Regions from separate parts of the Homo sapiens genome. Here region 2 is linked to region 1. The links come from fine-mapping of genetic effects on gene expression. A gene starts in region 1. The other region holds a variant in brackets. All regions are shown on one strand. Distances are between the middles of the regions.

Region 1 (4,399 bases):
GCCCAGTTTTAAGCCCTAGCTTGTTTAACTTCATTATGCCACTTTGTTTCCAAGGTTCCTTCCCATATATAAAGGGGGAAAAATATAAATGGGATGGCTGAGGTGAGTACATCGAAAGGGAAAGGAATTAGTCCCACTCTTTAAGTTTGGCCACATAGTTAATGAAATGGTCTTATCAATGGAGTTATCCTGTTTAAACACCAAAAGGTGCAATTTCTTCTCCATCATCCCCAATCCCCACATTCTCTGCCTCCTCCCTTCATTGCTCTTTAGCCACTAGCAGGCTAGGTAGGGTGTTCCTAATCTGCAACCGGAATGTTTCTGGTAGGAGCCATTTCTCACCCACTCTTTGTCCTCTTTTATCACTTAAAATCACGGAAGGCTGTTCTGAAAGCGGCTGGGCTCCTTGTAACATTAAAAAATTATTAAACTCAGAAACTAATTCTGTTTTTTAATCATAAATATGAAAACTAGGAAGCAAACTGAGAAGAATGAAAGACCAAATCAGCGGATCTGAAGCAGGCCACTCTCAGGAAGACTCCTGAGGAATAATTAAGGCTAATTTTAAATATCACCTCCTGGGTATCATCATCACCATCGTTCCCAGGTACCTGTCTGAGATAGTCCATTTTGAAATAGATATACCTTAAATTATGTTAAAATGTACTAAGCACTTATTGAGCTCAGTGATCCTGAAATATGCCTAACAATAAGCTGCCTAGTTGCCACTTATTAGCTAGGTTTATGTCTAGGAGGTCTAGGAGGGACTATGAAGAATATGAGCTGTTTAATTAGGGGTACTTGTCATCACTAATGAACAACAAGAAATAGTTTGAAAACTTCTTTGAGATATTCACTTGCAAATGTCACCCGAATTTCAGAAAAGTACAGTCTCTGGAGTAAAGCTATTATACACTCAGAGAGACTGTTGTGCTTTGCATGCGTTATATCATTTAGTCCTCAAAACATGTTGTCAAGATTGGCATTATTATCTCCATTTTAAAGATGAGAAAATTAGGTGCAAAGAGCTTCAGTAACACACTCAAACTCATTCAACAATAAATAACTAAAAATTGTGCTATACACACTTTAAGAGTCACATGTTCCTCCCCCAAAATTATGAAAGGCCATAGAAGGAATTCAAGAAGTAGGCTTCATGACTTATCGTTTCTTCTCATCTCAGATGAATTCACTTTAATCTCTCATGCCCAAATTGTAAAATATCATTTTGATCACCGTCAATATTACACAGACCTGTTTGAATGTGCTCAGCTTTTTCAGTAAAATTAGAAGAAACCACAATTTACAAACAGGTATATGTGCATTAAGGAAAAAACAAAAAACTACCATGTGATTTTAGATATGGATGCCAATTCTTAAACATTGTTTATTATTTCTGAGCTCAAGTGCTTAGAATGTTTAAAATGCAATATATTTATGTGGATTTTTTTCCAGGATATTGGAACATATATAAAATATGCTTGTGCATATCTAAGCTTTGTATTTATTTCAGGTTATATGTATACTGAGAAGAATATATAAACAGTGTATGATATTTACATGTTATTTCATTTTTTGAGGGAAATTAACCTCCACAATTATTAACTATGCATAAAATGTAATGGCAGATATGACTTATATTGTATAGGACTGACTACAATTCCTCTTTAGAAATAGCTGTTCTTTGCTTTTATAATACTAGGAAAAGAGGAAAAGAGTTCTTAAAGAAATACAAGGATTCCTCAAGCCCCTCTTCCCTAAAACATGCTCTATCATATCTCCTGGATTGACTGGAATATCCTTCTCTGCCCCCACCCCATCACCCTCTCAATGCAGTGGAAAAGTCGGTGGGTAATTGGGTCCAGATTGGAGGTGTTTAAATATTCATGAGGCTGGCAGGGGACTGGGAGGGGGCGACTGTCTAGAATGGGGGTAGGGGCTGGGGGAAGTGATTAGTCACTGAAGGCTAGAGAACAATTCCGAGAAAGAGACGGAGAGAGAGGGAAGAAAAAGACAGATAGATAGATATTGGGGGGAAGGAGAAAAAAGGAGAAGAGAGGGAAGAGAGGACAGCGGAGAGAGAGCACCAGAGAGAGAGGGAGAGAGAGAGAGAGCGCTAGAGAGAGGGAGCGAGCATGTGCGATGAGCAATAGCTGTGGACCTTACAGTTGCTGCTAACTGCCCTGGTGTGTGTGAGGGAGAGAGAGGGAGGGAGGGAGAGAGAGCGCGCTAGCGCGAGAGAGCGAGTGAGCAAGCGAGCAGAAAAGAGGTGGAGAGGGGGGGAATAAGAAAGAGAGAGAAGGAAAGGAGAGAAGGCAGGAAGAAGGCAAGGGACGAGACAACCATGCTGTGCTGTATGAGAAGAACCAAACAGGTAGAGCTAAAGATTTTTTACTTCTTGCTGTTGTGAAATAACCCGAGTACAGTATTTCCCCGTAAAGGCAAACAATTTTTTTACTGCTTCTGCTCTGGCCGTGGTGCTCGCGCTTCCTTAGCATATGGTAACTGATGGTTGCATCCCAGCTTTTATTCTTTTCTGTCTTTCATGCTCTGGTTTTGGAATGCTGCTACTAATTAGGGTGAGGGTAGAAAAAACATGCCTGTTTGGCTAGAAATAATTTTTTTTTTTCTTATTAGTGAATGCTCAGCATTTGAGGTCTCTGGTCTTGAGGGTGTGGACGTAGAAAGGGGTGTGGGGGAGATGATGTGGGCTCTACCTACAAGATGGGGAGGCATTTCTTTATATTATTTGCAAAAAAGCAGGGTTGAGGAAATAATATTCAGAACTGAGTATTGCCTCTCTGTCATACAATTTTCTCACATGTGCTGCGGAAGATGCCTTATTTCGTGCATGCATGAGCTTCGAAGGGGCGCAGGTATTTATGGAAAAACGTGCAGGTCTTATTTATTTAGTATTTATTTTTCAATGAATGAATGAAACTGTGATTTGATAGATTTTTTTTTTTTTTAAGAGAAGCTAAGACAACTGGGGCTGGGGGAGAAATTGGCCATGCAGAAGGAGAAAATCCCCTTCCTAAGATCAGCAGCCGATTGTGCACCAGCTGGTCGGAGGAGAGGGTGGACCACGCCCCTAGGAGCTCCGATGGGATGGGAAAGACAGCCGGGTATTACCTGTTGGAAACCAGGTCTTTTCTCTTATCCCCTTCCCTTGCTTCTTTCCTGGGATTGTCAGTGACCAGAGACAGGCTAACATCCTGGATAATAAGTATGGTGACTCATTTTCATCAGGAAGAGGGACACATCCAAGATTAGCAAGAATCAGAGCCCCTCCTTCCCTCCCCCACTGCCCAGGTTTTACAGCCATTTCCAATTGCTCGCTTATTTCTTGAAAGACATTTTAGAAACTTGATTGGGGTGAGAGTGGGAAGGAATGACGAGTGTGGTATTCCGCAGCAACCGACCATGCCATGGCAGTCTCCAAAAGAAGCTTTCAAACATTTGTTGGAATGCATTTGAGTGATTTTGGCAAAGGTTAAAGAGAAAAATGGGTGTGGGATACGGGTGAGTGTGTGCGTATGCTTGACTGTGGTGGGGGTGGGGGTGTGGTGGGGGCAATCTTGGTCAAAGAAGCCCTTCGCAGACTGATTGCCTTAGGGGTGGGGTGCAAGAGATGGAATTTGGGTATAATTTCCAGTGCAGGTATTGGAAATTGGGCAATTTGTAATACACTCCCTGAATCCGAAGGGGGTGGAAGAGAGTGGAGAAGAAACAGCCTGCCAGCTTAGCACATTTAGCCAGCGCCCTGGAAGGAAGGGTGGGGAGTGAGGATGAAGGAGAAGGAGCAGGAAGAGGATGGGAGACTGAAGCAGAATGTCAGAGCAGTGGGAGTAGAGATTTGGCATAAATAAATAAATAAATAAATAAGCAGACATCCTGGATTGTGTGGGGCTATTTGGGGGAAAAAGTCGGATAGTGGGGGATTGAGTTGGGGGCGGTATTTGCAGCATCTCCTGAAACTGCCCTATGGTTACAGAGATTGATGCTTCCATTGGCTCATTTTATCAAACCAGGGCATTTTCTCTCTGTGTCCTCCTTCATTTTAATATATAAATGTAATAAATACAGGTGTCTGGGTTAAGAACACTGTCAAAGAAAAGTCCTGAGGTTATTTCACTGGTGAGCTGGGGAAATAACATTTAGGAAGGTGGAGCACTAAGTAAGCCAAAGCCATCCACTTAAAAAGCTTTAATTTTGGAAAGAAAAATATTCAGGTTCATAATTTGTTCCCACCCTATGTGTACATATGCAAGTATACATACATCTCCTTTAATAAAGGAAATCATGTATGATTTTTAGAAAAGGAATTAGGGCTAAAGGAATTCCCTTCCCAAAATGAAGACAGCTGCCTTCCCTGGGGCTCTATCTCACCAACAGCCCC
Region 2 (4,399 bases), 30 kb after region 1:
GATTGTACCATTGCACTCCACTCTGGAAGAGACCCTGTCTGGAAAAAAACAATAATAATAATAATAAAGAAAGTAAAATCCAATTCTGTCACACTGAGAAACCTTTTATTATTTGGAACCCATATGCCAACAGGCCCTCAGTAAATGAAGCATGGTCAGTGGAGGTGGGGTTCTGCAACATTATGAGTTTCTTGCTAAATGAAGTCAAGTCTCTCTTCCTCTTTCTCTCACACACACACATCCATGCACACTCTGCACATACGGAAGACCTGTTGTTTGAAAAGTTAAGTTAGTGTTTGAAAAGTATATCATTTGTTTTTAATTTGTTGCATGAATTTTTGTGTTCATTTGGCAAGATAAATTTTACTACCAGTTATCTAGATGAGAGGGAGTCAACTTTGAACCCTCATTTGATGCCTAACCTCGGCATCAAGAGAAAAAATCTATCCTAAACTCAGTTCATATGTACATTTCTATATTTTTCTTTTCTCTTGCTGCATTCCATTTTATTTACCAACACAGAAGCAGAAGGTTGTAGTTTCTCTATTTCCTTTTTCTGATAAACACCTCAAAAGCATATAGTAATTTCCTCCATTTTTATCTGGCCCGTGCTTTTCTTAAACACATGTAATCTGTTCTTCCCTCCCTCCCCCACTGTTCTAAAATTGCTTTCCCTGAGGTCCTTGGTGGCCTTGTAATTTATATTTGCAAAGACCTTTCTCAGCCTTCACTTAACATTTTCGCATTGACTGTGCTGAACACTTCTTAGGATCCTCTCTATTCTTGGCCCCTGTTCTGGCCCTCTTCAATTGTTACTCTCCTCCTCTAAGCTGGTTTTACTTTCTCCTCTGTCTTCTAGATAGAGGTGATACAAAAACATGATCTTAGTTTTTCTGATCTTTTATTTTTAATTCTCTTAATTAGAATTTTCTTCCACCTTCATAGCTTCAACTATCACCTTCTCATAAAAGACACTCAAGTGTATATTTCCTGTACTAAGATGCTTCTAGTTGCTTACTGGGTGTCTAGTTCCTTCCAAACATTTACCATTGAAACTGAGTCCATCACCTTTCCCCAAAATCCATCTTTCCCTTTGAATTCTCCACAAATAAACTGTACCGCTCATTTAATTCTGAAGATATTATCTTTTGTATTATTTATTTAATTCTTTCATTTGTTGTTACCATATTTAAACAGTAATTATTTTGAGGGAAAGAATCGTATTTTCTACATCTCTATATTCCTGTATTCCTGATGATTCTTATCCAGCATTCTTTTTTTTTTTTTTTTTTTTTTTTTTTTTGTGATAGAGTCTTGCTCTGTTGAGTCTTGCTCTGTTGTCCAGGCTTAAGTGCAGTGGTGGCACCATCATAACTCACCACACCCTCAACTTCTGGGATCAAGCAATTCTCCCACTTCAGCTTCCCGAGTGACTGAGACTACAGGCATGTGCCACCATGCCCAGCTAATTTTTAAAAACTTTTTTGTAGAGACAGGTTCTTGCTCTTGCCCAGGCTGGTCTCAAACTCCTAAGTTCAAGTGATCCTCCCACCCCAGCCTCACAAAGCACTGGGACTACAGGCATGAGCCTCTGCACCCAGCCGCCTATGCAGTGTTCAATAAATGATTTTTATTAAGACGTTTCACCTAAGTTCCTAATATTTTGCATATACTTCTCACTGTGGTAATTTTTGAAAGGGTTGACAGATTTTGATGAAAATGAATAGATATGAAGTGTAATTTTGGTTCAGACCACCGTCTTGAGACAAAATAGTAGCTACTAAATGTACTGACAGGAGAATTTCTGTAACTTATTAACAGTGGATTCCGTACAATTTTATATACCTCTGCAACTGAATGTGTTCTGCTATTCAGAACTTCTGAAAGAGGAAGTTACCAGCCAAAGAAATTATGAGGCAAGTTGAAGGATCTAGTTAGGTTAGACTAAGCAGACACTCAAATGAGAGGGAAGGCAGAGCTAAAACTTCAAGACTGGGTTTCTCTACCTCATCTGGGAGAATACTGACAACAGGGCATATAAATTTTTGTCTTTTTGCCCAAAATATGAGGTACTGGGCTAGGTGCGGTGGCTCATACCTGTAATCCCAGCACTTTGGGAGGCTGAGGGGGGCAGATAACTTGAAGTCAGGAGTTCAAGACCAGCTTTGCCAACATGGTGAAACCCTGTCTCTACTAAAATTACAAAAAAATTAGCTGGGTGTGGTGGCGCATGCCTGTAATCCCA[C/G]CTACTTGGGAGGCTGAAGCACAAGAATCACTTGAACCTAGGAGGCGGAGGGTGCAGTGAGTTGAGATCTTGCCACTGCACTCCAGCCTGGGCGACAGAGTGAGACTCTGTCTTAAAAACAAAATAAAATAAATAAAAAGGTAATTTTTCCAATGTCAAAGGAGACTAGAAAAAGTTTTTGAAGAATGGTGTCTGCCCCTACTTTGTGTGGCGGGGTGAAATACCACTATTTCACCAAGGGTAACCTGCGCCTCCTAAAACTTTTATTTCTCCCAAGACTAAGTTTACAGATTCTTAGAATTAATGAGTTGAAAAAGACTTGACCATCTAGTTCAAATCCCTCGTTCAGAGACATGCCACATGCTTCTTAATCCTGGTTGTATGTTAGGTTTTCTAATCTTGCCTCTGGGCCTTATCTCTGAAGTCCTCACTCTGCACTGGCCCTAGAGTTTGAGTAATGCCATCCAAATGTAGGTATTGCTATTATATTAAAAATAACACTTTGCCTTGTTCATATTTAATGAATTTTCCTATGAAAGATAGATTCATGTATCACTTTTCAGATATTTAACATCTGAAATTAAAAAAAAAATTAGCCCTAATGAACATTTTCTACAATACATGGATCAAGAGTAGAGAGGAAATATTGGTCTCCACATCTCCCCTTTCCACTCCCCCAACACCAAATCCACTGTCTATAGGCATTTACACATTCCTTCTGTGATTGGATGATTCTGCCTTTTTCAAGGCTGAAAAATTCAAGTCAATTGACTCTCACAGATTTGAAGTTTTCTGCTGTGGTGTAAAAAATACATCCATATTTCAATTGTTTTCACTTTAATTTATCAGTTGGCCACAATATATATAAAACAGAATTGCCTGGTGCTCAGAATGAAGTACCAAGTGATTCAAATATTGACTATTCTACTCAATTTCAATATAAACTTAAGCAAGTCACACACTTGTCCACTTATCCAGTAGATGAAACCGCAAAGGAGGAGAGTTTATCTGAAAAGTTCTTCTCTGGAGAAAGATACTTAGAAAATACAAATGGTCCTTACTAAAGACCCCAGCTCATCCCAGGAAGATCTGAGGAAAAGATGAGCAGACCCAATGCTACTTCAGCTCACCTTTCTTAGCAGTCTTTTTTTTAAAAGCTCTGTTTTAATTGAACACTATGTTCCTGAGTCAGAAGAGTGCTTCAGTAAATCTGCCTTCCTGGGGCACAACGAATCACACACAGTCACACTTTCAGAAAGGCGAATCCTGCCAAACGTTGGCTGGACAAAAGATGGCTTTTTTTCTCCTCCAGCAAAAATTACTCAAATTGCTTGAGAAAGAAACACAGTATGTTTATCCCTGTTTACAGATATTTAGCTAGTGCCCCTTCAGAGGGTCATGTTCCTATAAACAGCATCATGATAATTATATCCACTGCTGCAAAGAACAGATGTGTAAATTGGTGGTTTCTTGGGGGAAAATAATACCAAGTCCATTTTCCAGAAATGTACACAGTACAGTGCAGCTGTAACATTCTGTGCAGAGGTCTCATTACTGTCTATTACTGAGTGAGGTGATTTTTAAAGAATATGGAAATTCACGGGGGGCATCTAGCAGGGAAGTCCAGAGACACCTAGGAAATGATTCAGATGGTTTGGTATATTTAAAAATTTCTAGTGATACTGGGCAAATCTCCACATCTAAAGAAAGTAGTAATAAATCTTTGATTATAAAGTTTTCCAGGCAAGAAATATGTATGAGTAGAGGGTAGGATTAGGAAACTTCTCATGCCCCACACACCTCTGAGATCTGTGTAACTTAGGTATAGACTAAACTTTAGTGAGGCCAGGTTGCATCAAGGTGGTCAAATTTTCGATCTGTGAACACCAGAATATTTCTAAACTCATTGCTGAAGGGTCTGGCAGGGATCAGGGTTCCTGAAACTAGAGTCAATGGTTCCTTATTTAAAAAGCCAATGTTACCTTGGACACAAGAATTAGATGAAATCCTTTCTGCTAATGAATTTATTTTGTTGTAGATACTTGCTTTTCCCCAGGGTATATATTTATGTGACTATATGGTAATCAGTATTATCCCTAAAAATTAAAACACAACACTAAGGTCAGCTTATTGTATTAGAATAGCTATTGAACA

Alleles and levels. Alleles are on the strand shown, and positions count from the first base shown. SD is a standard deviation of normalised expression in the study named.
With allele C in place of G in region 2, the expression in lymphoblastoid cells of the gene that starts at base 2,165 in region 1 is higher (small effect, 0.37 SD a copy in TwinsUK).

The links. PIP is the estimated chance that this variant, and not a neighbour inherited with it, causes the effect. A credible set is the group of variants that fine-mapping cannot tell apart.
Region 2: its variant is the best candidate, but not a certain one, in a credible set for the expression of GAP43 in lymphoblastoid cells (TwinsUK, PIP 0.55).

What each region holds. Positions count from the first base shown.
Region 1 is chr3:115,621,346-115,625,744 of GRCh38, forward strand. It overlaps GAP43 (growth associated protein 43), which reads left to right and starts at 2,165. Exons shown (of 3, transcript NM_002045.4): 1 at 2,165-2,374. The coding sequence starts at 2,345.
Region 2 is chr3:115,651,083-115,655,481 of GRCh38, forward strand. The region is part of intron 1 of GAP43 (growth associated protein 43); the gene reads left to right. Among named protein-coding and RNA genes, the nearest start is that of GAP43, 30 kb to the left of the region's middle. RefSeq lists a silencer at 109-218. The variant C/G (reference allele first, on the strand shown) is at 2,246.